2 separate regions of the Homo sapiens genome follow, and region 2 is linked to region 1. Evidence: fine-mapped expression QTL. A gene starts in region 1. The other region holds a variant in brackets. All regions are shown on one strand. Distances are between the middles of the regions. Region 1 holds the start of SUCNR1 (succinate receptor 1). Region 2 holds the start of AADACL2-AS1 (AADACL2 antisense RNA 1).

What was found. PIP is the estimated chance that this variant, and not a neighbour inherited with it, causes the effect.
Region 2: its variant is fine-mapped to the expression of SUCNR1 in whole blood (TOPMed, PIP above 0.99).

Annotation. Positions count from the first base shown.
Region 1 is chr3:151,867,821-151,878,586 of GRCh38, reverse strand. SUCNR1 (succinate receptor 1) reads right to left here and starts at 4,944. Exons shown (of 3, transcript NM_033050.6): 1 at 4,881-4,944. All of the region lies in intron 1 of AADACL2-AS1 (AADACL2 antisense RNA 1), which reads left to right.
Region 2 is chr3:151,922,837-151,933,602 of GRCh38, reverse strand. It overlaps AADACL2-AS1 (AADACL2 antisense RNA 1), which reads left to right and starts at 5,428. Exons shown (of 3, transcript NR_110203.1): 1 at 5,428-5,746. LOC107986047 (a long non-coding RNA gene) reads left to right here. Exons shown (of 3, transcript XR_001740567.1): 2 at 1,157-1,278; 3 at 2,927-3,051. The variant A/G (reference allele first, on the strand shown) is at 5,755.

The DNA of each region.
Region 1 (10,766 bases):
CTAATTCTACCGCTCTCTCATATTGCCAGCATATTCCTATATTTCTCAATTTCATATTTTTTTATCTCTTAAAACTTTTTTCATTTACTCTACCTTACTCATTATTAGCAAATGGTTTTACCTCCTAGTTCATTGAGATAGAGAGCATTTGTTGAGCTTACTCTAGATCCAACTCATTCCCAAATTCTCAGTATTCCCATGGTACCATTATTTCTTCTTTTCTGACTCTTCAGCATTCTTCTCCTCATCGTCAGTCTTCATGTCCTCTTTTCCATTAGAATTTAAACACTCTCATCATTTCAATCTTACAATAAGGAGCAACATAAACAACTCTCCCTAGTTTCACGTGTTCCTCTCCTCTTCATAGTTTGATTTCTGGAAAGAGCCATCTCATTAAGTGTTTTGACATCTCGACACCCCATTCCCTTTCAACTTACTCCAATTTGGCTTCGGACCTACCAGTCCTCCAAGTAGCCTCCACATTGCTCATTCCAATAATCATTTTTCACTAATCTTATTTTATTTATCAGTTGTTTTTCATACTCTGTCTTCTGGAAACACTCTTCTTTTGCCTTCTGAGACATGACAATATCCTAGTTTCCCTTCTTTCTCCCTGGTTGTTCTTTGCAGGCACTTTTGGGGCTCAAGTCTTCTTGGCTCAAGCAATAAATGTTGAGTTCCTCAAGGCTAATTTCTGGGCTCCTTCTTTTCATAGATTCTTCCTAAATGATCTCATTCACTTTTGAGGTTTAATGACCAACTATACATCAACAACTCCCAGATTTCCAGCCCAGCTTGTATCTGCCTTACAAACTATAATTGTTTATTGCCATTGATTGATTTCTCTCAGATGTCTCTGCCTCTAGAAATCCTACACCAAATTCTCCAAATTCCTTACCAAGCCTGCAGCATATCCACCAATTTCAGTAAATGGTTCTGCCATGTATCCAGGTGCTCACCACGAAAATCTAAGCAATATCCTCAAAGTCATCTAAAACTCAACACCAGTAATGAATAAACTACCAAGTCTGTTTACTGTAATGTCTGGGTATTTCTCAAATCTATCATTACTGCTCTATAGCTTTCATTATCATTCTCGTCCAGGCTACTCTTATCTCTATTTTGCTCTATGTCATATTCTGCTATTGTCTCCTCACATCCTCTCTGGCCCTCATCAGTTCATCTTTACCATTATAGCTAAACAGTCTTGAAAAACTACAACTCAAAATCAGATCATATAGCTTTCCTTGATCAAAACCCTTAATTAACTTTCCACTATCCAAGGAATATAGTCTAAAATCCTTAATGGGGACATCAAGGTCTGCATGATCTGGCCCCTGCACCCACTTCAATTTTGCTTGGCATTACTCTCCTCCTAATTCATCTTCCTTTCTTCCTGCTCTTTGAATGCACAGAGAGCCTTCTTAACATGCAGTCCCTCTATCTGAATCTCTTTTCACTGCTGTTTTTGTCCTGTGATTCCTGGCCCATCACATATTTGTCATATATCTATACTTCTCTCAGGCCTCTGTTCAAGTGTAGGTTTCCCAAGGTAGGCTGTCTGACCCTCAGTCTAAAGTAGGTCCTCCCATTTATGCTTTCATTGTATACTAAACTTCTTAGAATTTTGTATAACTTTGTCTTACTCATTTTTTATTGTCCACATCTGGCACAGTGACCAGCAGATAGTAGGTGATCTATAAATCTTTGTTGAGTGAAGAGATGAATATGAACACCTGACTATTTACAAAGCATTTTTATAAATATTTTCTCCAAGGCCAGATAAGCAGCAAGACCATCAGATTAAGCTCATTGCTTATTTCACTGTGAAAGTCAACACTATATATAATATAATATGATAAGTATTAAAAATTAGTAATTGTAGTAGTAGTAGCTGTAGTTTAGAAACACATTTGTATAAGGCAAAATTAAATATCTACCAGGATAAATTTTAAAACTGAAGCATTTAATTAAGAAATGACACCTGAAATTAATAAGCATAAGAAGTCTAGAAAGACGTGCATCAAAATGTTAATAGCTTTATCTCTAATGATGAGATTTCAGGTAGTTTTTATTATTTCCTTTCTCCTTTTATCTAAATTTCCTATCATTTTTTCTCTCAAAATTGGCATCTATTTGATAATATTAAAAACTTTAAATTTCTAGAAATATAGCAAAAATGTCAATAGGCTTTAACATATTAACAAACTTTATTTTTTTTAGCTCAATGGTCAGTTTTTACTATTATTATTTATTCTCAGTAGCTTTTAAGTCCACACTTTCTGGAAGCACTCTCTTCCTATCTTCTATGACACAACAATCTCCTTGTTTTCCTCCTTTCTCCATTTTCATGCTCTTTTGTGGCTTAATCCTTCTTTGCCCAAGTTTTAAATGTTGGACCTTCTCAGGCCTTATTTCTGAGCTCTTGTTATTTTGTGGGTACTCAAAAAGCTGGTGCACAAATTCAAATGAAAATTAAGGTATAGAAAGTTTCCTTGACACAAGAAATTTGTTTCACTTTTGCATTTCCTTTTTTTCTGGTCATAACGTTTATCTTTCTGCCTAGTCACCACTGGTAATGTTAATAGCTTATGTATTGTGCACAGCAGAAAGATTTGACTGCAATGGAAGGAAAATATAGCCACAAAGACTTGTGCAACTAGAGCCTGATTTCCTGCAACTATCACTCAGGCAGGTGACGGGTCACATGAAAGTCAAGGAGCATTCTGCTTTATAGTAGCCCAGAAGGTCGGGGATTGAAGGAGTAGTAGGGAAGGAGTAGAGCTGAAATAAGAGAAATGAATGACTAAATTATCATATTTGTCTTTCTTCTCATACAGTTGTTTCTTCATTTTTTTGAAACAACTTTTTAAAAATGTATGTGTAAAATTATTGTTAAGGTGTAACACTCATAAAATCAAATAGGCAAAAATAAGAAATAAAAATGGTCTGTAAACAGACCACTCCTAATATTTGGGTACCCTTTTACATTTTAATATTTACCTGAATTTTTATTCATAAAAATGAGATTTTTTTATGATGTTTTATAATTTTTTGATACATTTGTTTCATTTTTTCTAAGTTCATAATTCTAATAGATTATGATTTTATAAATATGAGCTGTGCAATATTTGCAGACCAATTTAACTTCACTAGGATACAAAATTTTGAAGATACTATATTTCAAATTGGATATGTTTATAGTTGGGTATGTTTTTAGTGTGGCATCGCAATTCTATAAACATATGAAGTAAGTTGCTCCTTTAAGCAAAACTCCCAATTAAAGAGAAAATTCCCTCATGAAAAATTCATATTCTCTCTTCTGCTATCTAGTGGCTATATTCTTAATTTTTAGGAAATGGAAATAGTGATAAATAAATTGTAACTGATTTGGATGAATTATTTTGAATAGGTATTTTTTAAGAGCAGAAATTAAAGTGAAATCTTTAGTTTCCAGTCCAAAAATATATCTAAAACTGTTAGAATTATTGAACTAGAAGCAATATCTAATTTACTCACATAAGCAGACCAATAATACTTAACTTGAAAATGTTTTTTACTTTAAATATATTCAGCCTTTTGAAAATCTGCATTTTTGAAATTTACTTTAAAATATATATGTGATAGTTTCTTAGCTTTTTAATTGTTTGTTTTTATAGTCATCACAATTAAACAAATAACATTTGTAAAATGTTTACTTTTAAGTGCTACCTTAAGGCAAATTTACATGGTAACATGAGAATTTTTTTTAACAAATTACTTTTTTGATTACTAAATAATTTGAGCAAAAATATATATTCACACTGAAAAGATATAATAATTTAACATTTGTAACTTTATTTTTATGTATTCCATACATTACACCAGAAATTAAGGTATTAAAAAGTAATAGTATGGCACAAATTGTGTATTAACTTCTTTAAGAATACCACACACATTTTGAAAAGTTATGGAAGGTAGAATAGAAATGGTTTCTGCAATTTTTCATTTTTCCTAAGTAAATTAATTATTGGGTAATATCATTTTTACACACATAAATGTTAAATTTAATTTTTAGGATGCCTGAAAATTCCCCCAAATACATTATTTTCTAAACATAAAAATATTATGCCCCAGCACAGTGGCTCATGCCTGGAATCCCAACACTTGGAGAGGCCGAGATGAGTGGATCACCTGAGGTCAGGAGTTTGAGACCAACCTGACCAACATGGTGAAACTCCATCTCTACTAAAAAATCCAAAAAAAATAGCCGGGCGTGGTGGTGGGCGCTTGTAATCCTAGCTACTCTGCAGGCTGAGGCAGGAGAATTGCTTGAACCCCAGAGGCGGAGGTTGCAGTGAGCCAACACATGCTGTAAATGTGTCACTCTGGCACTCAGACACTCTAGCCTGGGTGACAAGAGTGAAACTCTGTCTTAAAAAAAAAAAAAAAAAAAAAAAATATATATATATATATATATATGTATGTATATGTGTGTGTGTGTGTGTGTGTGTGTGTGTGTGTATGTATCAAATACATGATTGTTTCAAATCATTTAGGAACTTTAATTTTTCCCCATAAGTAGTTATATTTATTTAGGTAAATCCAATTACTATTTTGTTGAAATATAAGTTGTTGAGATGTTAGCAAATATAATAAATCCTTTTACATAAAATAAAATTAGTATTTGACAACTAAAAGAAGACAGTTAATTTGTTGAAAAATAAACGTAGAGATAAAAATGACTTTTTTTTTTCAATTATTTTGCTGTTTTACATCTATTTATAAAGAATTAATTTAAACACTTAATACTGAAAACCTTAATTGCTCACAGGTCACCTTTAGAAGGAAATCTGGCCTTACTTTATACACTGAGAGGCACAATTTGCCATGTAGCTTACCATTCTGTTGGAAGACTTGATCCCTTGACAGGAACTCTGCCAGCAGCTGGATATAGCTTCTGACCCAGTGTTGTGCCACTGGACATGGTTATTACAGTGTCCTATTTGCATATCCTATTTGCATATCCTGCAGCCAAGATTAATAATTCAAAAGCCCAGGAATAATTTATTCAGTCAAACCTCCCAGTCAGAGATGTTCATGCAGAGGAATTTTTGTGAGGCTTTTATTTTCACATTCACATTTATTTTATTTTCACATGCAGTTTTGCAATTGAATGACAAAAAACAAGTAACTCATTTCACAGGAAACACATTTACCAAATAGATTTTTAGAAAAACACTGTTGAACTTATTTTATCCACTACCAAAGCAACAGAGAAGCATTCCTTATTTTCATTTTATTTGCATATTTACACAATAAGAAGTGGTAAATACTGCTTATATTGGGAATACAGTTGCCTCTGCTTTTCTTCTTTTTTAAAATTAATTTTCTTAGTGAATTCTGTATTGAGAATATAATAACGAAACCTCTGTTTTCAATAACTTTGAGGGAACTATAAAACTGAAATTTTAAAGGGAAACCTGGATATATGCTATGTTGGTGTACTAGCAAAAAGATACTAGAGCTTCAAGTTATTTTCCATTTTATTTTCTGTGCTTAAAATCAAGAAACACATAAAAGATACATCAGATAGCTAGGGATTAGGGAGAGAGATGCTAAGTAAAATAACCTTAATAGATGGCAATTTATATATCCCAATCAATGCTCTGAAAAACATCTGGAAGTACATTACCACCATTTCAGACAGGAAGCACACCTGGCTTTTTCCAAGCATTATATTAGGTTTAGATTCAAGTAAACACTCAGTCTTCTTGATGTGAAGCATAGGGATTATACTAAGAAAGCCCATAATTGTGCAGGCAGCAGTAATTCAATTTAAATGCTATGTAAGTTGAATATTGAGTTAGCAATGACAGGCAGAAGCCCAAAAAGAAGCTCTGTTACAGGCATCCTCCTAACTAAGCATTTCTCCTCACCAATATCTGACAGCTTAAAAACTCAGGAACTCAAAATATATGTATGTATATATACACATACATATATACATACATATGTGTCTATATTACACACTTTATATACATGTGTAAAATATATTTATACATGTATGAATATTTATGTATACAAACATGTGCATTTACATGAAATAAAAATATCTATAATTTGTTGAGTTCTTGTGATGTGGCAGGCAGGTATTACACTAAGTACCTTTATGCATCAAATGCATATAGTAATCCTCTGAGGTTGTTATTATTTAAGATTTTTCTCATTTTGCAGATTAAAAAGCTAAGGTTCAGAGAGGTCAATTAACTTTCTCAAGATTGCAGAATCAATAACGGGAGGGACCAGAGCTTAAGCCTATGTACTTGGATTCTAAAAGCACCGACTCTGATTCTTGACTGCCTACAGAATTGAATGACAATACCCTTGTGCACAACAAAGTCTAAGAATTAATAACAGGTATTTTTCAGTAATGCAATTCTTTTCTACTTTTAGAAGGAAGAAAGGTTAAAACATTATTTTTGTCTATATTTTTAAAAGGGCAAAAAGCATTTGAATAACCAATGCCAGGCTTGTTAATTTTAGACATAAATTAACATGAACCCCTTCCAAGAAACAAAGACAAATGGATGTATTTCACAGGTTTCTGCCACCATTCTGATGGAAGAAAAGAGTAATTCCCCCTTTGTGGGGTGGTGGGAGTTCCCGAGAGCTTCCTCTTTCTTCGTCCCACTTCCTGACTACCATCTCACTCTGGCTGCTAAGACAAAAATTGGTCTATGCTTCTCCTTTTTCATAGAACACGTCATCTAGACTGTAGCCTGGTAGCCTTGTTTCCCTCCCAAGTCCTACTTCCTGTTTCCTCCGAATGCTCTCAGTTGAGATACTAGAGTGTTACTGGGAAAGACTTACTAAAAGGTCACGAGTATTTCTGCTACAAAGCTTTATGCAGGTCTGCAAAATGATAGCTGCACGGGAACAAGGCTGGATTCAGAATTATGACCCTGTGAGCAGGGTGGGTTTCATGGTATGCTACTGTGTAGTCTCACAGTGCTTCACACTCAAAAAAGATCACACAGTTGAGTTAATGCTCTACTGTCACATTCTTAATTAAAATGTTTCATAACTTCTTAACAAGGGACCCCATATATTTCTTTTGCACTGGGCTCTACTAAATATGTAGCCAGTTCTGCCTGTGAGAGTAGAAACCTCCTCAGAAACTATTTCTATTCAGTATAGCACATCAAATTTTGAGGGGGCAAAGTTTTTTTGTTTTGTCTTTTTTTTTTTTTTACATATAACATGTTGAGATGCACTGCTTGAGAATCAATGGAAGTTTGAAAGGCAGTGAAAGTTTGCAGTACTGGCCGGGCATGGTGACTCACACCTGTAATTTCAGTACTTTGGGAGACCAAGGCAGGCGGATCACTTGAGTCCAAGAATTGGAGACCAGCCTGGGCAAAGTGGCAAAACTCTGTCTCTACAAAAAATGCAAAAATTAGCTGGGGCATGGTGGTGCGTGCCTTTAGTTTCAGCTACTCGGGAGGCTTGAGGATGGCCTGAACCTGGGGAGGCCGAGGCTGCAGTGAGCCATGATTGTGCCACTGCCCTCCAACCTGGGAGACAGAGTGAGACCCTGTCTCAAAAAAAAAAAAAGTTAAGTACAACAATGAACACTTTTTAAAATATATATTTTTTAAAAGCTTGTAGTACTGTTTGCTAAGAGGTAGTATAACACAGTGTTTAAGAGCATAGGTCCTGGAGGCAAACTGCTTTGTTTCAAATATTGGCTTCACTACTCACTAGCTTTCAGTTTTTGTATTTGTAAAACAGGGATAATGAGAGTTACCAATCTTATGAATTGTTATGTATATAGCAGAAGTACATATGCTACATAGTATGAGGTACTAGTATATACGTACACTGTATAATATGAGGTACATATTAGTTGCTAAATAATTGTTGGCTATTACAGAAATTTATAATGAATGAGAGAAGACTTTCTCTAAAATAATAATGGTAATTCAGTGCCATTGATGTTAGAATACTTGCTGCCCAGAAATATCCATTTAAAAGGTCCTTATAAAAGCCAACATGATAAAAAGATTAGTGAGTTCTAATCCTGGCTTTGCCTTTTACTAGTTTGTGTGATCTTTGAAAAAAAATCACATAACCTGATTTCCTTGTTTGGAAAAGGGGAATAATAATTCCTACCCATCAAACTCATAATGTTCATAGTATCAAATTATATAATGTTTGAAAATGCAATGGGCTTGAAATTGAAGAGCAGTTCATGTAAACCAGGCAAACTAATCAGGAAATTCAAGAGGAAAAAGAAAATGGTGGGAAATATAATATAAATATTAATTAAATCCAATGCTAGTAATAACTTCTGCTGGGTCCGGTGGCTCACACCTATAATCCCAGCACTTTGGGAGGCCAAAGCAGGAGGGTCACTTGAGCTCAGGAATTCAAAACCAACCTGGGCAACATAGCAAGACCTCCTCTACTAAAAATCGAAAAAATTGGCTGGGAGTGGTGGAACACACCTGTAGTCCCAGCTACTCAGGTGGCTGAGGTGGGAGGATCACTTGAGCCCAGGATGTCAAGACTGTAATGAATTATGATGGCATCACTTTACTCCAGCCTGGGTGGCAGAGTGGGATCCTGTCTAAAAAAAATTAATAATAACTTCTACTAACATTTTTTCAGCATTCACTCTATAATAACACAGTGTATGCAGTGATTCTTTTAATATTCACAATAATTTAATGCAGTGGATATTATTAATATCACTCATTTTCAGTTGAAGAAATCAAGGCCTAATAAAGATTAAATAAATGATCCACAAATACACAGCTAATACATGATTTGGCTGTATAATTTGAAGCCTTATCTGTTTGACTCCTGAATCCAAACTCTTCTCCATTATTCTCCTGAGTCACTCATGGTAAAGATGAAAATATTAGATTGAAACATAAAATTATTGATATTGGAACATTTTTACCTTATATATGGCAATTTTATATAGTTTAGTAAAATAAATTTAAAACTAACACTAAATTTAATTATTAGTTATAAAACTTATTGATTATCAAATTTAATAATTTAAATCTTCCAACTTCCAAAAAGAATAGAACATTTTAGATAAAAATCAAACATGTTAAAAATAAATAGTTAAAGTATTTATAGAAAGATTCTCCTAGCAACGTCTCTGGGAATGTTTACAAGCCACATTTAACAGCCCAAAAAGTCTGTGTGGAAAACAAAACTGGTTTAAGGGTCATGCTAATCTTCAAGGGTCACAAGCAGAGAAAGAAGAGGGCAATTAATCTAATTCGAGGACTTTCTTCTAAACCCGTAAGGAGAAACAATAATAATAATAACAACCCCCAGAAGTTGAAACAAATCAAGATTATTGGGGAGGATATTTTGGTGTTTCTGGATAGATATAAGCAAGATTACATGGTTACTTCCTTTTTCAATGAATGGTTTCATGTAGCAAAATAATAAAGGACAAACAGCAAAAGGAAAAACACAGCAGAAGGTATTTGTGCATGTCTCAAAATTCTTCCGGCTTCTAGAAATCAATAAATTATATTAACCAAATTTACTTTACCACGGAAAATGGTCTATTCAAAATAGGCACTCAAGCAATCTACTTCCTTTTCCTATGAAAATCCTTGTCATTTAAGAGCTACATTATTAATGGAAATTTTTGCATTACTGACTTTTTTCTGATTATACAGTTAAGAAAAATATGTGTCATATCTATTGGTACTGGGCATAACTCAAAGGAATTGTTCTGCTAAATTAAAACACATTATTTGTTAAAAGCATCTGACTACAGCTAAAATATTCTAAGTTCCTTGAAGTACTAACAATTAACCTAGAAACACAGCAAATTCACCTTTTATCTTTCAGTTTATATGCAAATTCCACAGCTAATTCATTTTTGATAATATGTGCTGAACCTTAATCACAGGTGTTTCTCTATACAAATAATGTTGTTTTGTTTCCTTGAATAGAAATAGCGGTATATGAAATTCAGGCATTTGTGTACAATTAGAGACAGATTTCATTTCCTCTTTCTCTCTCTTTATCTTTTTATTTTTATTTACTTATTTATTTATTTTTGAGACAGGGTCTTGTTCTGTCACCCAGGCTGGAGTGCAGTAGCATGACCATAACTCACTGCAGCCCTGATCTCCTGGGCTCAAGCGATCCTCCTGCCCTCAGCCTCCTGAGTAACTGGCACTACATGTGCACACCACCACGCCTGGTTAATTTATTTTTTTAGGTTTTTTGTAGAGAAAAGGTTAGCGAGGCTCATCTCGAACTCCTGAGCTCAGGCAATCCTTCCACCTCAGCCTCCCAAAGTACTGGATAGCACTTTGCTATCCAGGTATGAGGCATCACACCAGGCCAGATTTCATTCTTAACTGTTGCTGATCAAGGCATCTTTTTTATTTAAAGAAAAGAGTTTGCCTAAAATATTAAAGTAATTTATTAATTTGCTAATTGATTACTTGACTACTCAGTCTCTTCCAGTCACATTTACTGTATTTTGTACAAATTTGCTTGATTCCTGGAATATTTTACATTATTTATAGAAACAAAAAAGCAGCTAGTTTATTGTCTTGATGTACTTTTTCAATTGGCTACTAATTAACCACTCTTCATTTTACTTGCTTGAATATATTATTTGCCCTTGAAATAAGAACAAGAAGTCAGTCTGATTGAATCTCATTGAGCATCCTAGTAATTGAATTGAGAGGTTTTCAAAATTCCCTGGAGTACAAGAGTATGTGTTCATTAAGTGAGCT
Region 2 (10,766 bases), 55 kb before region 1:
GTTTTTCTCTTGTTGCCATTGACATTCAGCAGTCAACATCTGGTCTGTTTTTAGTTTTTTAAAATTTTTTTCTTTCTTTTTGTTTTAATGCAGCTTTTTTAGTTTTCTAAACTTACCCCAGATGCAAAGACTGTCTAAATGCTAACCTTTTCTCCAGGGCTTTATTTTGTAGTGTTGATGACTCAGCAAATGATTATTATCACTTTCCTCTGTAAAATGAAGGATGACAATCCTTACGTTCTCTTATGCATTTCTAAAGATGAATTGATTGCGTAAAACAAAATGCTTTAAAATTTAATTTTATGCTTTTCTAATTAATTAAAGGGGTACTTTAAAAATAATGGAAAAAAACCTGGCTTAAGGTATCAGAACAATAACATATTCTTCATATGGGCTCAGAATGAATTGGCTTGACTTTGCAAAAGTCAAGGGATTTTTTCTGCCAGTGCTGAGTTCGTTCACCTTCTTAATCTTGGTTTGAAATGTGCAATATTATGTGTAGAGTGGAGACTGGGGATCCCAGAACAGAACAGAATATCCCTTTGAGTTTTTTTTTTTCTTTTTTTTTTAAATTTTGCTCTGTCACCCAGGCTGGAGTGCAGTGGCGCAATCTTGGCTCACTGCAACCTCTGCCTCACAGGTTCAAGCGGTTATCCTGCCTCAGCCTCCCTATAGCAGGGATTACAGGTACGTGCCACCATGCCTGGCTAATGTTTGTATTTTTAGTAGAGACGGGGTTTCACCATATTGGCCAGGCTGGTCTTGAACTCCTGATCTTAAGTGATCCACCCGCCTTGGCCTCCCAAAGTGCTGAAATTATAGGCGTTAGCCACCGTGCCCGGCCCTTTGAGATTTAATATAAAGAATTAAAGATTAATATTAAGACTTGCCTTAGAGTGACTCATGGATTCAATAGTCGTCTCCTTCTAAAATAAAATAACCCTAGGTTTTTTAGAGGGAAATGATTAGAGGTTCTGACTAACCAAGTTTCAATTCAAAAGGGCCAAAATTTACTTTTTAACCTCAAGCCAAATGAACTTCTTGAATCTCAGCCGATTTTATTTTATAACTGGAAAGTACCGGGACCACCCTGAAAAAACAGATGATAATTTGCCTTTAAAGAAAAAAGGTTTATTAAATAAATATTGATTTCCAGGAGAAAAGCTCAAGACACAGATGTCCACACCCAACAACTAGCTAATCTACTTTAAATGCCAAAGATGAATACAAAAAAAGAAAAAGAAAAAGAAACTACAACTTTTATCTGCAATTTGACAGGTACATGAAATACTTTGACCAAATTTTAGTTGCCTGGAGCTTAGGTTCCAAATGCTTTACTTCTTTAGTTTAAAATATTTAATGAATTTTTAATTAAAATATTTGAATATAAAGTGCTATTTAAATAATTTTTTTTAGTGTTCTCATTCTCCTTTCCCTATGACTAATGATTGAGGAAATAGTCATTTTCACTCAAATATTATTTGAAGCTAGTTGTCTCCTTTACCTCAAAAATTAGCATTAACACTGCTGACTATTCACACCTTTTTCTTGTCATTTTTCATTAAGAACATTTAGCCTGAGAAGGCACAAGAGAAAATGTAAGATGATCTGCAGAGTGTTTGTACTTCAAGTTGATGTGTAATCTTTTCAAATGTTTTAATGTTAATATGTAAATAAATAATTCCCTGCATACATTTACTAATTTACATCAGAATATTTTAGAATTTTATTCTATGAAGCTGATTTGTTTATGCAGTGTTGTGAAATTGGTATTAATATACTAATGAGTAAGACCTAGTATGTACTGACTGATTGCTCCTATTGGTAAATTTTATATTTGGGGAAAATATAGTCAGGTGAAATACGTTTTGATAATAAGGTTGAGTTTTTCTCAGAAAATTAAAACAATGTTATCGAAAGATTTACTTACAAAACACCTTATTATCCAGATGTCAGATCCATAAATACTATAGAGATGTGAAAGTTATTCCCCTTACTCCCTAATAATGAAGGACCCCTCAGTAACTATGTAGTTGGTTATCTTTTTAAAGGGTTGAGTGGCAAGAATTGTCAGTGAATGTTGACTTCATTTTTCTCACTTTGCTTTCGGTGATAAGATGCCTTTTAAAGCAAACACTATTCAAAATTTGAGACAGAGTAAAATTATTAAGTCTGGTCTTCCAAATCATGTTCTCTCTATGAAAATATAGAGTCACAGGACTCCTGGCCCTGTGTTTTTATGAGTCATAGGATTTCTATGGTGAAAAATAAAAGATGAATAAACCTAAGATCTGAGAAAAATAAAAAGAACCCCTTCAATACAATGTTATGTCATGACCAGGCTCTCTGTTTTTGATATATGTATGTGTGTGTTTATAAAGAAAATTTTTCAAAAAATTATTTTGTCTCATCTTCAGAGCTTCTTGGGTTTGTAAAAAATTAGATTAGAGGAAGTAGCTGGCAAGTTAGGCATTAGAAACCAAAGCCTGCCAGTGCCAGACCAGGCATGGTGGCTCACACCTGTAATCCCAGCACTTTGGGCGAAGGTGAGAGGATCACTTGAGGCCAGGAGTTTGAGATCAGCCTAGGCAACACAGCATGACCTTGTATCTATAAAATATTAAATGAAAAAATATTTCCAGGTGTGGTGGTGCACGCCTGTAGTGCTAGCTACTGGGGAGGCTGAAGCAGGAGAATTGTTTCAGGAGTTTGAGGCTGCAGTGAGCTATGGCCATGCCACTGCACTCCAGCCTGGTTGACACAACAAAACCCTAGCCCTTAATTAAAAAAAAAACAAAAAAACAAAAAAGCCTGCCAGATGATGCCTATGATTTCAATGAAAATGACAACAGGAGTAACCTTAATGATGCAGAAACAATACAGTCCTGGCTTACCAAGTGCTCTTGTATCCACTTTGCTTTAACAGAGCAAATTTTTATGAATGAATCCAGATGGCTACTCCAGTTGCCTTCCAGCATATGGACAAAGGTGAGAGTGATTTTTTCTGATATGATATTCTGCTTTCTAGTTGGTGACAAATATTTTACCCCTTGAGATGAATTTTAAAATCTTTCCCTTGGCCAGGTGCGGTGGCTCACGCCTGTAATCCTAGCACTTTGGGAGGCCGAGGTGGGCAGATTGACTGAGTTCAGGAGTTTGAGACCAGCCTGGGCAACACGGTGAAACTCCATTTCTACTAAAAAAGAAAAAATTAGCCAGGCGTGGCGGCGTGCACTGATAGTGCCAGCTACTCGGGAGGCTGAAGCAGGAGAATTGCGAGACTCCATTTCCAAAACAAACAAACAAACAAACAAACAAAAAAACCCATTTCCCTTTCTGGATCAGAGCACAAATGATACAATTTTTAAAAAATACCTTGGTTTTCTTTCTTGTCTGTTTGCACAAACCTGCTTTCAACCTCATGATTGTTTCTTCCAATTGAGATCTGATTGGCAAAGCCACAGACTAAGCCACCTAGTCTCCCCCTTTGATACTGTCATGTTTTAGTTAGAGAATATCAAAAAAGAAGGGACCTTAAGATCACTTGGTCCAACCCCTCATTTGTAAGACAATGAAACAGGAGCAGAGAGGTGAAGGGTCCTGTTCAAGGTAACATGGCAAAGTAGTAACAGGTTTGGTTTAGATGTAGCAGAGGGGCTCTTTCTTCTACATTCTTTGGGTTGTGCAGCTTCTTCCTTTTTTTTAACTGTTTATTATATAAATGTTGTTTAAAAGTGGCCATTTTTTCCTTTTCTAACTGAATAATATAAACATGATATGTTAGGCTGATATCACTGGTGGTGGTGGCTGCCTATCACATGCAGTCCCTTCCTTTCTTGGGCAAGGAATGGGGTAAGGAATTATCCATTACTTTCGGTGTCCACAAAAGTAAGAAATGATGGGCGCTTGCTTTTGCAGATTTTGCAGTACCGAGGATAAAGGCATATAACCTGCCAGGAAATCCACTCTAGAGCAAGTGATGCAAAGATACAGGGACAAAGGAGATTTTTGTCCCAGTGCAGGTAGCAGAGACAAGAGTTCCAGAGTCTGAACAGTGCTGGTGACAGCGCTAATGACAGGCAATGTCCGGGGTTGGTAGGGGCAATACCTGGTATTCTGCAGTGCGGCCATAATGTTTCCGGAATTGGTGGGTTCTTGGTCTCACTGACTTCGAGAATAAAGCCGCGGACCCTCGCGGTGAGTGTTACAGCTCTTCAGGTGGCGCATCTGCGTCTGGAGTTTGTTCCTTCTGATGTTCGGATGTGTTCGGAGTTTCTTCCTTCTGGTGGGTTCTGTGGTCTCGCTGGCTCAGGAGTGAAGCTGCAGACCTTCGCGGTGAGTGTCACAGCTCATAAAGGCAGTGCGGCCCCAAAGACTGAGCAGCAGCAAGATTTATTGCAAAGAGTGAAAGAACAAAGCTTCCACAGTGTGGAAGGGGACCCGAGCGGGTTGCCACTGCTGGATGGGGCAACCTGCTTTTATTCTCTTATCTGGCCCCACCCACATCCTGCTGATTGGTAGAGCCCAGTGGTCTGTTTTGACAGGGCGCTGATTTGGTGCGTTTACAATCCCTGAGCTAGACACAAAGGTTCTACACGTCCCCACCAGATTAGCTAGATACAGAGTGTCCACGCAAAGGTTCTCCAAGGCCCCACCAGAGTAGCTAGATGCAGAGTGTCGATTGGTGCATTCACAAACCCTGAGCTAGACACAGGGTGCTGATTGGTGTGTTTACAAACTCTGAGCTAGACACAGAGTGCAGATTGGTGTATTTACAATCCCTGAGCTAGACACAAAGGTTCTCCAAGGCCCCACCAGAGTAGCTAGACACAGAGTGTTGATTGGTGCATTCACAAACCCTGAGCTAGACACAGGGTGCTGATTGGTGTGTTTACAAACCTTGAGCTAGATACAGAGTGCTGATTGGTGTATTTACAATCCCGGAGCTAGACATAAAGGTTCTCCACGTCCCCACCAGACTCAGGAGCCCAGCTGGCTTCACCCAGTGGATCCCGCACCGGAGCTGCAGGTGGAGCTGCCTGCCAGTCCCGCGCCGTGCGCTCGCACTCCTCAGCCCTTGGGTGGTCGATGGGACTGGGCGCCGTGGAGCAGGGGGTGGCACTTGTCTGGGAGGCTCGGGGCCGCACAGGAGCCCATGGAGGGGGTGGGAGGCTCAGGCATGGCGGGCTGCCGGTCCCGAGCCCTGCCCTGCGGGAAGGCAGGTAAGGCCCGGTGAGAAATCGAGCGCAGCGCCGGTGGGCTGGCACTGCCGGGGAACCCAGTACACCCTCCGCAGCCGCTGGCCCGGGTGCTAAGCCCCTCATTGCCCGGGGTCGGCGGGGCCCGCCCGCTGCTCCGGGGGCGGGGCCCGCCAAGCCCACGCCCACCCGGAACTCCAGATGGCCCGCAAGCGCCGCGCGCAGCGCCGGTTCCCGCTCGCGCCTCTCCCTCCACACCTCCCTGCAAGCTGAGGGAGTGGACTCTGGCCTTGGCCAGCCCAGAAAGGGGCTCCCACAGTGCAGCCGTGGGCTGAAGGGCTCCTCAAGTGCCGCCAAAGTGGGAGCCCAGGCAGAGGAGTCGCCGAGAGCGAGCGCGGGCTGTGAGGACTGCCAGCACGCTGTCACCTCTCAATAACGCCCATCCCAACGTTTCCTGAGGAATAATTTTGGTCGTGTTCCTGCTACTCAGCTTTTCGTGGTTCCTGCTCATTTTCAGAGTCTAACATTCCAGCTTTTCCGGAAATTCTGTGAGTAT[A/G]CAACAAACTTTGACAATTCCTTTTGGATTTAACTCATCTGAAGTTAGTTTTGGTTATACTCAGTGAAAAATTTTGGTAGTAGTTACATGGCTCGAATAAAGAAAATAGACTTTGCTTTCTGGGTCTGGGAATAACCAGTGAACATCTTTCTGAGCATCAGTTTCTCATGCATAAAATTTAGGAAAGAAAACCTGAGGGAGGTTAGCTGAATCACTTCTCTGCTTTGCAGAGTCAGATTCTATAAGAAAATGTTATAACATGGAGAAATTTGCCCTTTTCTGTTCTCCTCAAGCCCCCAAAATATTTGTCTTCTGATAAAATGTAAGGAGAAAGAAGAGGCAATAAAAGCAGAAAATGAAAAAAAAAAAAAAAGGCCAAACAAATCTTTATTTTGTTTTGATAGAAGCCCATGAAATATAGCAAGTTGGTTTCAATTTTCTGAAGCTTTGCACAATCAATTAGTTAATCTTAATCACTGCCTATGGAATTCAAACATGCACAATTCCAAATTTTTACACATTCTCATTCATTAAAATAAAGGCAGAAGCCAGGCGTAGGTAGAGTGATATTTTTATGAAGCACAAGCCTTGTAATTTTCCAACATCTGTGGGGAGTTAAAAAACAATCGCTACGATCGCTTCAGTTGCTCTGAAGCTGGTAATATGTGAGTCATGTTTAGGTGCTTTCTGGGCCCTACAAAATCATCAGATAGATTTTCAAATGTGTTTGCAGTAAGAGCCGCACCTCTTTTTTTCTGGGCATGGAAAAACCATGTAAAATAGATCTCAAAGAAGCCAGCATTGTAAGCAACAGGCACATAGTTTATTTTTAGAGACTGGGTTACCATTAGCACATATTTGGACACTTTTTAGTCTGACTCAAATATACAAAAAACACTTTACTAATCATTTATAGAGCAAGTTCGCTGTCTCCACCCTACCCAGAATATAAAATATAAAGATTCTAATAATAGGGGTACACTTAATAAATGTATTGATGGGTGTTTCTCTTTCAACACAATTAATTTGCCCTAAGCAGTGTCTAGTTAATGAGGTCTTAAATTGTCAGAATAAATAGGTGTGCTCTGCTCTAACTTCAACACGAGGCCATGGCAGACATGGCTCTTTTCAGCTACCTAAGTTTACTTTCAACCATTTTCCTACCCATGCAGTGTCCCTTTACTGAGAATTGGTCGTGGACTTCCAGCTGTCTGTTTCCTCCCGAAGAGGCCAGCTATCTTGCTGCACTAATGATTCCTCCTTTGTTGGAAGCTGACTCTATACTAATAAAGAACTGCTGGCAAACAACTGTAATTAAGAAATTTAAGCTTGAGAGAATTAGGATGAGGCAGTGTAATTCCTCGTTATCTTTGAGCATTTTTGGAAGGCATGAGGTACTTTTTGTTTCTGGTTAAAACCGAAGGAAACATTGAATAAATTCCTGCCTTCCACATAATAAAAAAAGGTGTATATTTGGACAGGCTTTATTCTTAGTAGTCACTTCATTTAGATCCTTACTTTTAAAATGTTTCTAATAGGGAAAAAATACTTTCATTCAACTTTTCAAACTAAGAAGTAAGATGGCTGTGTCCCTGAAAGATGGTACATTTATTTAAACTAAAGTTTTACATACATTTAAGTTATACATGACTTGTATCTTATTATTTTCTGAAGGTGGGTTAGGATAAAAAGAAAAGAGGTAAAAGAAAAGAACATTAAGACAAGAGTTTTAAAAAAAAATCTCAGGAGTCTAGTAGGAAGCATGATTCATCCATAAAAAACCATGAGGCAAACAAGTCTTTCAGGAGGGAGCTGTGAGCTGCCTTGAGGCTTATCCACTAGCCACACAGAGGCTGGAGCTGTAACTTTTGTTTTAATGAGGGTTTCTTGGTCAGGCTTAGGTTGACGTCCAAAAAATACATCGGGGAAATCTTGGCAAATAGAAATTCCAGTAGGACTTTTGTTTATGGTCTCTCTTTACTTCTAGTATGTGAATTCCTCGAGGGTAGGGTGTTATTCACTACTAGATCCCTAGCACCTGAAAAGTACCTGGTGCCTGAAAAGGACTGAAAAGGGCAATTATAGGAAGGGAGGGAGAGAGGGAAGGAGGGAACAGAGAAGGAACGGTGTTCCATTGAGACCCCCTGGAGGAAGAAAATCTGGGTTGTGTGGCTTTCAGTAGTTCAATGAGCACATAGCTGTCTTTAAGCCTCCACCTGTGGTGTGTACAGATTCATAACACCCCAACGGCGCATGGTTATGAGATCACCGAAGCCACATCCTCTAGGTTGACAAAGTTTATCCCAACATGCTCACTCTCTCCAAAGCTCTCTCTGACTTTTAATTTACCTGCCACTACTTAATTTCTCCTTCTTGGATTGCTTTGATATTTGTGCATCTCTCATTATGCTGCACTTTGACTTGTATTTGGCTGCTGGTTCTCAACTGAGGTCCTACCTTTATTCCTGAAATTTACCACAGGGCCTGCAACTGGCCTTTAAGCACCAACTCTGCACAAAATCTGTGACTACCTAGGTGTTTCAGGTTGGGCAGCAAACATTTATTCTCAAGTATTCCCCGAGTCTGGTCACTGCTTGACCTTGCCGAGTCCCGTGTTCACAATGTTGTCGAAACCTGTGGGTGAGATTGAGTCTTCAGAGGAAAGAACTAAAGAATTCACGAGGAGCTAGCAACAGCAGAGACTGACTGAAGGGGAAGAGAGTGGAAAGAAAGGATTCATGGAATCTGGGAACACAGAAAAGGGAATGGGAGTGAAAAAGCTCTATATACTTTAAAGTCTGACCCTGAAGTTGTCCCGTTGCGAGTGCTGACTGTACCAGCCTGTAATACATTTAGAGAGATGCACAACTGTGCAAACAAAGCAAATTGCAAACCAGTTTTAGTAATTTCTCAATAAAGGGATTACCCTGTAATTCTCTGTGAACCTCCTATTTTGCAAGCCCAAAGGGAAAACAGTTTTTTCTAGACACATCTATTATGCTTGTCCCTCAGCTAGCAATAAGGGATGCTGCCCTTGCCTTCAAGTCCCTGCTGAGCACCACAACCATGCTCAATATCCTCATCCGTAAAATATGGTCAAAAGAGTGTCTGCCTCACACATTGTAATTGGGATTAAATGAATCAGGTCTAGAGTGTTTAGGAGATTGTCTGGTACATAGTAAGCATCTAAGACGTGTTAGCAATAATATTGACAGTAATGATAAGAGATGACATGATGGTGATTATGATGGTATTAACACATCATTGGCTGTGACTGATTGGACAAGTAACGCTTTTATCCAAAGGCTACCAATCCAGAAGCTGCATGTTGTCTTACAGTTCCTCTGGCTGGTTGCAAAAGATGAGCTAGGCCAGAGTCCTCTCAAAAAACCAACCAACTGTGGCCAAAAAAGTCATAGGCTGGGATGGACATTGTGTGGCATTGTGAAGGTTAAAATTGGGAGGCAAAAAAGTATTTAAAAGAAGAGTGAGTAAAAAAGAAGAGACATTGTAAAAAAAAAAAAAATCACTAAGAAACAGAGACACTTAGTAAGAGAGCCCAGAGTACCCAGCCAGCCCCTGCCTATCTTTTAATTCTGCTAGTCTCACTACCAGTTTCTTAAAGGTCTCCTAGATTCCAACCATAACACTCAACTTTTAGTTTTAAATTCATCTGGGCTTGAGTATTCTTTGTCTCTTGAGCCTAAAGAATCCTGACTAGATTAAAAAATACTTTTTATAGCACAATTAATCATACTACAAAAATGAGTCAGATATCATCTGGCTGCAAGACTTCCTTTCAACTATCGTTTACAAATTTTAAAGCATAGCAATTATTGCAAACACTGATGAACAGATTTAGCTCTGTATGAACATTGGAATTTCCATGGATAGGCATCCTATGCAACTTTATTCTCTAGGCCATTATAAAGAGATTCTTAAATGTCAGTGATAAGAGCCAGTAACTGAAGTAGCAGAGGAAAGTGTCAGGGAGTGCAAACTCAAATGTCTATCGAGAAAATTCATGCATATACTGGGTGTAATACAATAGAGTGTGGTAGGAATTTTGCCAAAATAAAGAGGTCTGCCATCCTGCACTCCTCCCCAAGACAGACATTTCTCTTAAGATCAGTCTTCTCTTGATGGGTGGAAATAAGTTCCCAGTTAAAAAAGCCAAAAATGTAGATTTTTAAAATTGAAAATCTTCTGATTTTTAAATGTTAAAAACTGATTTAATTTTTTCTAATAAAATATCTGACCTCCCAAAAAATGTATCTACAGAACAAACTTTATTTGAGGCTGCCAGTTTCTGCCCTCTGATATAATAGCATGGGAAATAGTCTATGGTAAAGAACCAGATGGTATACAACTTATCATATTTCCTAAATCCACATTCTACTCTGGTTATACTGTAAAAAGACAAGAGAGAGGAGACTTTAAGACTTTTTGTTAGAGGGAAATAAAAAATGCATATCAACATTCGCCCAAAAGATTCAAAAAAGTCTTAACATTATGATCACAAAATTGTGGATCCTGGTGATTAATAATGCATACATATATTGGGATAAAGTCACGTGGAGTCCTCCAGGACACCTGTATGTCATTTTGCAGTTGTCCTCCCCATCATTTACATTTCATCAACAATATCTAGGAAATCATAATATGTAGGTAATTTTCAAAACTTAAAAAAAAATTTCTAAAAGATTAGGATTAAACCCTTGGCTTTGGAGTTGTATTTAAGCATACTCTTTGATGATGGAAAGAAAGTAGTTTAAGTGATGTACATGTATATTTTAGTAGCCCTGGAATAATGTGTTCTAGGTGTTATTTAAAAAAAAAATTCATGGCTAACCAAATTAATTGAAATAGGATTGACTAGATTTGGTTTGGTTTTGATGAAGCACAAAATGTTCTTTAAAGAGAAACTTCACCGGATACAGGGCACAGCTTTCAAATCATAATCCAGTGACAGTCTTCTTTGTATCTACTGTAATTGTCCTCATTTATTTTCA